Linked DNA regions of Homo sapiens. The protein of the gene in region 1 interacts with the protein of each later gene in a pairwise test. Each region holds a gene or a part of one and is shown in the gene's direction. Other genes may lie near its edges. The genes, in order: MTFR2 and MAGEA12.

Region 1 (3,916 bases):
ATCTCATTCTAAGAGTTCAGGAAAATCTAATTTCGTGTAAAAATGAGCAATGGAAAAAGATGTCCAATCACATAAAATGTTTTTGTCAAAATGGAATTATGAATGCTTTAGTAAACTGGAAGAAATATCTCTGAAGAATTTAGAAGAAAGTTGTCAGCAAAGCATTTATGGATGTAGTATTTGACCTGGGTCCTCCTTGCTACTTAAATCAGTTGGAATATTAACCTATGTTAATAGTGCAGCTGGAAGAGTAGTGGTTCCGTTCTCATTCTGGAGGGATGTTTTCATTCTGGCCCTGTCTGTTTGCTGTTTGATAAGAGAGTGGGAAAGGGAGGGGGTTATAAAGTCGTGATTTATTCACAAGGGCAAAGGGAAGGACAAGGAACTTGAGAAAATTACTCCATCTAGGGTTTCTGATCCATCATCATCCTTGTTCTGCGCTCACTCAGCCGTATCCAGCTCTACTGGGCATATCACTATTATTGCTATCAATTGTTTTGCTAGTTGCTTAGTCCCAAATCATTATCATCTTTTCTGTCATTCCACATTTAGGTATTTTATTCAACAAATAGACTGAATGCCTATTATATACCAGACACTCTTCTAAAGCACTGGGGAAAGATAGAGCATGGATCAAAACAACTTCCTGTTCTCCTGGAGTCTACAATTTTGTTTGGTGGTAGTGGAAGCGTAACTAAATATATATGATAAGTGCTATAGAGAAAAGCAAATTAGGGTTAGAATGGAACGAGATGCCCCGCTGGCCTGTAAGCTCCAGGAGGACGAGGACCTGCCCTCTCATTAAGGTATTTTCCGTGCTTAGAATGGTGTCTGCTACGTAGTAGATATCTATTATTGGTTGAATGAATAAGTGATGTTGACCATAGATAAATTAGTTCAAAACTTAGATTTTCAAATTATGTCAGTAGCAGGCACACATCTTAAATTGTTATATCACTCCAGTGCACGTCTTGCTGAAATTCAGAAGAGGAAGCTATTTCGTATGAAGCCAATAACCTCAAATCAGAAATGAAAACTGGGATATCACCTGTCATATCACTTGCCATCCTCGGCTAAGCCAGGAGAGTGTCCGGCCCAATATTCGGTAGCCTGGATACGTAGGTGTATTTAGTGAACGAAAGAATGAATCCTAGCCACTGCAAAGCTGCAAAACCCTCGGGGGTAGTGCTTGGCTTCTGCCAGTTCCACAAGTATTTTAATATTAGCTGAACAAATGAAATGACCAAAAAATAAATCGCGATTTTGTGTCAGATGAACTTGGGAAGGCGGATGCGCTTAGGGTCCGGCTGTAGCGAGTAAGACACTCCCTGCGAAGAGTTCTGTGGGGTACGAACTCCGGACTGCGAGTCCAGCTCACGAGTTTGTACCTAAAACCTTGCCCTGCGGGAGCGACGCTGTCCTAACGCGACCTGCCCTGCCCGTCAGCTCCTATTGGCTGACTCTCGGAAGACCCGCCTCTTGAGAAGGAAAAGCAGTCGCTTCCCGAATTGCCTGACATCATGCAATGACCAATCAGAAGCAGCGATCTTCAGTTTTGCCCAATGAGGCTGGTTACGGGTCCTGGCCCGCGGAGTTTGATTTCGTCCTGGGATGCGGAAGTAGCAGTCCTGTCATGCGGAAGTAGCAGTCCGGTCCTAGGGACTAGCAGGTGGGTTGGTTGGGCGCAGGAGGACGGGGGCGCGCTTCCCATAACATTACCCTGGCTGAGCGTGAGGCTCCAGGGCTGGGCACCGGGTTGACCTCTTATTCCTCGCTGAGGGCATCGTTACCGCCTGTGGCTGCAAGCCGAGGCGCGCGGGTGGAAACTGGGTCGAGGTCTGGGTAGACGTCTGAGCGATCTGCACAAGGAGTGGCGCAGTCTGGAATTTGATTGAGGATTCCTAACGCCCTCCGCTTGATGTTCTGGTGATTCCCGGGGGCTCGGCTTCGGAGGAAGGTGAGCAAGGCTACCACGCTGTGTTTGGAGAGCACCAGGAAGCTTGTGACCAAAGCGAGGGACGCGATCCGGCTCTGGTCACGGCCTGTTACTAGATGGGTGACCAAGTCACGTCCCGTATCTGGAATTCATGCTTCTCATTTTAAAAGAGTGAGGAGGGATGGGCATTCCACATGGCTGGGGAGGCCTCACAATCATTGCTGAAGGCAAATGAGTAGCAAAGTCACATTTTACATGGTGGCAGGCAAGAGGGCTTGTGCAGGGGAACTCCTGTTGATAAAACCATCACATCTCATGAGACTTATTCACTACCACGAGCATAGTATGGGGGAAGCTGCCCCCATGATTCAGTTATCTTCACCTGGCCCCACCCTTGACACGTGAGGATATGTGTGTGAGAAGAGCTACTGTTTATTTTTTTAAAAACTGAGTCGTCCCTTGCCTGCTTTCAAGGGTTGGCTAAACTCACCCATCTGCTAAGAGTCTCAGCCCAAAGCTTTCAGGAAAGAGCGAGCTTCGCTGTGGCATGTAACTTGAAGCCTTGCCTACTAAGTAGATGTCCAGTTTGTTGATTGGTCTCTATTAACTAGGCTCAAACATCCTACGAGGTTTTAATGTAATCTAACCAATTAATTGAAATTTCCTTTACAACCCTCTCTTTCCCCCAGACTTCCCCTTCCTTTCTTTTTCTCTGACTTAAAAGAATGCTGGCTAGGAGAAATTAGTTGACTGTGTCGTGTATCAAGAGGACTTTTCCAGGTTATGTAGTACAATTTGGCATTTATTTGTCAAGAGTAACATTTTCTAAAATTTTCCCCAAAGGCACCAAGAAACTGATAATGTTCCTTTGAATTGGCTTCTGTATTTGCTTCATCAATGTCTCTCATACTGAATATCTTAAGAGAGATGCTGGAATATTTTGGCGTTCCTGTAGAACAGGTAAATGTCGTTTTGGATTGGAATGGATCTGTTGTATTTGTTCTTGGGTTTCATTTTGAAAATGACTTATATGTAATCATTTGATTTAAGGCAAAGTTGTTGCTTCTTTTTAGTTGGAACAAAGGTGAGTTTGTAATAGTATAGCTTTGATGATTTGAGTTAGAAGAGGGATAAGATTATTGAGAACATATTTACCTGATAGGACAAATGCCAACAGAAGATACAAAGGAAGCAAAATATAGACATGAGCTTCACAGAATTACATTTATTGCACAGATACATTAAAACTTCTATTCAAGGTAATTTATAAACAAGTTCAATATTTAAAGCTCAATAAATCCAGAATAAATCTAATGGAAAGAGGATGATTTAGGCCTGAGAATTATAAGCTGTATTAGTCTGTTCTCATGCTGCTAATAAAGACATACCGGAGACTGGGTAATTTATAAAGGAAAGAGGTTTAATTGACTCACAGTTCCACATGGCTGGGGAGGCCTCACAATCATTGCTGAAGGCAAATGAGTAGCAAAGTCACATTTTACATGGTGGCAGGCAAGAGAGCTTGTGCAGGGGAACTCCTGTTTATAAAACCATCACATCTCATGAGACTTATTCACTACCACGAGCATAGTATGGGAGAAGCTGCCCCCATGATTCAGTTATCTTCACCTGGCCCCACCCTTGACACGTGAGGATAATTACAATTCAAGGTGAGATTTGGGTGGGGACACAGCCAAACCATATCATAAGCAAATCAAATTTTATCTACTTGTTGAAAATCTGCTGTATCTAAGACAATATGCTTGTTTCTGCAGGTAATACAGAGGAGTAATACATGGTTGTATTCATAATGCTTAAAATATGAGGAATAAGAAACAATAAAGATAACTGTAATATGAGATTGTAAGGAAGACGGGTGGGGTGAATTAGAAGAAAGTAGTCAAGGATAATTTAAGATTTTTTTAAAGCAAAAGTAAGTTGAAGAATCATAGTACCATTATTATAAATGGGCATCTTAGT
Region 2 (3,916 bases), on another chromosome or scaffold:
GCAATAGCAATAAAATCCAAGAATTACCTGAATAGAAGTCTAATAAAAATGTATAAGCTGCTTATAGAGGCAACTATCGAAGTATACTGACATATTCAGGAAAAAATAGCTTGACATACATAGAGGAGTATAACATATTCATTCATGGGGAACACAACAGTGTAAAAATGTAAACTCAGCTTAAATTATTTACAATTTAGTGCCTTACCTGTAGTCGCCGACATTACAAGCAAATTTGGGCTGCTGTGCTCTGCTTCCCAAATCAACCCTGTAAATTTATAGAATGGAAACAGAAAGTAAAAAACCAGTATTAGCAAGAAAATCTACACAACAAAACAGGGCCAGTCCAGGGTGAGACTGAAGACCTTGTTGAGCTGGTACTTGTGTGTGACACTTGCCGTGTCGGTTAGAGGGGGTTAGCGGCAGGGATGTTGGGGAGGTTTGTAGCCTGCCTAGACGGCAGATAACAGAATGGGTAGAATAAAAGTTTTAAAATTTCCACTTCACTTCATTGCACAATCTGAGGCAGCTCCTGAAAACACGATGCCAAGAGCCCTAGGTAATAGCAGGACACCAGGAAAATTGGGTTTGTTAAGGCAGCATGGCTCCAGAGTTCTGCTAATAACAACCTGAAACCAACATAGTGGGAGAGGAATTACGTTTAAAAAAAAATTCCTTCAACAGAACACAAAGACTGGAATAGAAGTAGATTAGGATAGTAAGAGTGAACGATGCATACTAAGGGTAGGTGTTAGTTCGTAGAAATAAATATATATATCGCTACCTACATATATACTTGGAAGATATGTAAACCGTATTTCTTCAATTCAGTGAATAAATCATTTAGGACCAAAGGTTTGCCAAGTGTAGCTCTGGCTGGAGAGGAGCTCCCGTGGGAAAGTGTCTGTCTTCTTCCAGAGGTCAATACGATCGTGGGAGCTCCCGCCCTGCAGGGAGCTCCTGGCCTGGGACCCGCAGCCATTCTCTACAAGGGGTGCAGCTGTGCAAATGCACAGACGTTACAGAAACAGAGTATCTCCTGCCAATCACTTCATCCAACAGCCAGGAGTGAGGAAGAGGACCCTCTTGAGTGAGGACTGAGGGTCCACCCTCCCCCACGTAGTGGGACCACAGAATCCAGCTCAGTCCCTCTTGTCAGCCCTGGTAAACTTAGGCAATAATGTCACCCCGACCACACCCCTCCCCCAGTGCCACTTCAGGGGGACTCAGAGTCAGAGACTTGGTCTGAGGGGAGCAGACACAATCGGCAGAGGATGGCGGTCCAGGCTCAGCCTGGCATCCAAGTCAGGACCTTGAGGGATGACCAAAGGCCCCTCCCACCCCCAACTCCCCCAACCCCACCAGGATCTACAGCCTCAGGATCCCCGTCCCTATCCCTACCCCTACCCCCAACACCATCTTCATGCTTACCTCCACCTCCATCTGGATCCCCATCCAGGAAGAATCCAGTTCCACCCCTGCTGTGAACCCAGGGAAGTCACGGGGCCGGATGTGACGCCACTGACTTGCGCGTTGGAGGTCAGAGAACAGCGAGATTCTCGCCCTGAGCAACGGCCTGACGTCGGTGGAGGGAAGCAGGCGCAGGCTCCGTGAGGAGGCAAGGTAAGATGCCGAGGGAGGACTGAGGCGGGCCTCACCCCAGACAGAGGGCCCCCAATAATCCAGCGCTGCCTCTGCTGCCGGGCCTGGACCACCCTGCAGGGGAAGACTTCTCAGGCTGAGTCGCCACCACCTCACCCCGCCACCCCCCGCCGCTTTAACCGCAGGGAACTCTGGTGTAAGAGCTTTGTGTGACCAGGGCAGGGCTGGTTAGAAGTGCTCAGGGCCCAGACTCAGCCAGGAATCAAGGTCAGGACCCCAAGAGGGGACTGAGGGTAACCCCCCGCACCCCCACCACCATTCCCATCCCCCAACACCAACCCCACCCCCATCCCCCAACACCAAACCCACCACCATCGCTCAAACATCAACGGGACCCCCAAACCCCGATTCCCATCCCCACCCATCCTGGCAGAATCGGAGCTTTGCCCCTGCAATCAACCCACGGAAGCTCCGGGAATGGCGGCCAAGCACGCGGATCCTGACGTTCACATCTGTGGCTCAGGGAGGGAAGGGGGTCGGTATCGTGAGTACGGCCTTTGGGAAGCAGAGGATGGGCCCAAGCCCCTCCTGGAAGATAATGGAGTCCGGAGGGCTCCCAGCATGCCAGGACAGGGGCCCAAAGTACCCCTGTCTCAAACTGAGCCACCTTTTCATTCGGCCGCGGGAATCCTAGGGATACAGACCCACTTCAGCAGGGAGTTGGAGCCCAGCCCTGCGAGGAGTCAAGGGGAGGAAGAAGAGGGAGGACTGAGGGGACCTTGGAGTCCAGATCAGTGGCAACCTTGGGCTGGGGGATCCTGGGCACAGTGGCCTAATGTGCCCCATGCTCATTGCGACTTCAGGGTGACAGATTTGCGGGCTGTGGTCTGAGGAGTGGCACTTCAGGTCAGCAGAGGGAGGAATCCCAGGATCTGCCGGACCCAAGGTGTGCCCCCTTCATGAGGACTGGGGATACCCCCGGCCCAGAAAGAAGGGATGCCACAGAGTCTGGCTGTCCCTTATTCTTAGCTCTAAGGGAACCCGATCAGAGATAGCTCCAATTGGCAATGTCATTTGTACCACAGGCAAGAGGTTGGGGAACCCTCAGGGAGATAAGGTGTTGGTGTAAAGAGGAGCTGTCTGCTCATTTCAGGGGGTTGGGGGTTGAGGAAGGGCAGTCCCTGGCAGGAGTAAAGATGAGTAACCCACAGGAGGCCATCAGAAGCCTCACCCTAGAACCAAAGGGGTCAGCCCTGGACAACCTACCTGGGAGTGACAGGATGTGGCTCCTCCTCACTTCTGTTTCCAGATCTCAGGGAGTTGAGGACCTTTTCTTCAGAGGGTGACTCAGGTCAACACAGGGGCCCCCATGTAGTCGACAGACACAGTGGTCCTAAGATCTACCAAGCATCCAGGTGAGAAGCCTGAGGTAGGATTGAGGGTACCCCTGGGCCAGAACGCTGACAGAGGGCCCCACAGAAATCTGCCCTGCCCCTGCTATTCCCTCAGAGAGCCTGGGCAAGGCTACCTGCTGAGGTCCCTCCATTATCCTGGGATCTTTGATGTCAGGGAAAGGGAGGCCTTGGTCTGAAGGGGCTGCACTCAGGTCAGTAGAGGGAGGCTCTCAGGCCCTAGCAGGAGTAGTGGTGAGGACCAAGCAGGCTCGTCACCCAGGACACCTGGACTCCAATGAATTTGGACATCTCTCATTGTCCTTTGTGGGAGGATCTGGTTATGTATGGCCAGATGTTGGTCCCCTCATGTCCTTCTGTACCGTATCAGGGATGTGAATTCTTGCCATGAGAGTTTCTTTGGCCAGCAAAAGGGCGGTATTAGGCCCTGCAAGGAGAAAGGTGAGGGCCCTGAGTGAGCACAGAAGGGACCCTCCACCCCAGTAGAGTGGGGACCTCACAGAGTCTGGCCGACCCTCCTGACAATTTTGGGAATCTGTGGCTGTACTTGCAGTCTGCACCCTGAGGCCCATGGATTCCTCTCCCAGGAATCAGGAGTTCCAAGAACAAGGCAGTGAGGCCTTGGTCTGAGGCAGTGTCCTGAGGTCACAGAGCAGAGGGGGTGCAGACAGTGCCAACACTGAAGGTTTGCCTTGAATGCACACCAAGGGCCGCACCGGCCCCAGAACACATGGGACTCCAGAGCGCCTGGCCTCACCCTCCCTACTGTCATTCCTTCAGCCTCAGCATGTGCTGGCCGGCTGTACCCTGAGGCGCCCTCTCACTTGTTCCTTCAGGTTCTGAGGAGACAGGCCCCGGAGCAGCACTAGCTCCTGCCCACACTCCTACCTGCTGCCCTGACC

Evidence for each region.
Region 2: the proteins of MTFR2 (region 1) and MAGEA12 interact in binary tests that used the Homo sapiens proteins (3 or more experiments, as listed by UniProt).

Annotation. Positions count from the first base shown.
Region 1 is NC_000006.12:136,248,017-136,251,932, reverse strand, and holds the start of MTFR2 (mitochondrial fission regulator 2), read left to right. Parts: upstream 1-1,621; 5' UTR 1,622-1,957; intron 1,958-2,779; 5' UTR 2,780-2,833; coding exon 2,834-2,896; intron 2,897-3,916. UniProt on the Homo sapiens protein: May play a role in mitochondrial aerobic respiration essentially in the testis. Can also promote mitochondrial fission.
Region 2 is NC_000023.11:152,732,237-152,736,152, forward strand, and holds the start of MAGEA12 (melanoma-associated antigen 12), read left to right. Parts: upstream 1-1,520; 5' UTR 1,521-1,623; intron 1,624-1,625; exon of another isoform or gene 1,626-1,798; intron 1,799-2,911; 5' UTR 2,912-3,017; intron 3,018-3,850; 5' UTR 3,851-3,916. Other genes in the region: CSAG1 (chondrosarcoma-associated gene 1 protein), read right to left, coding at 209-224. UniProt on the Homo sapiens protein: Not known, though may play a role tumor transformation or progression. In vitro promotes cell viability in melanoma cell lines.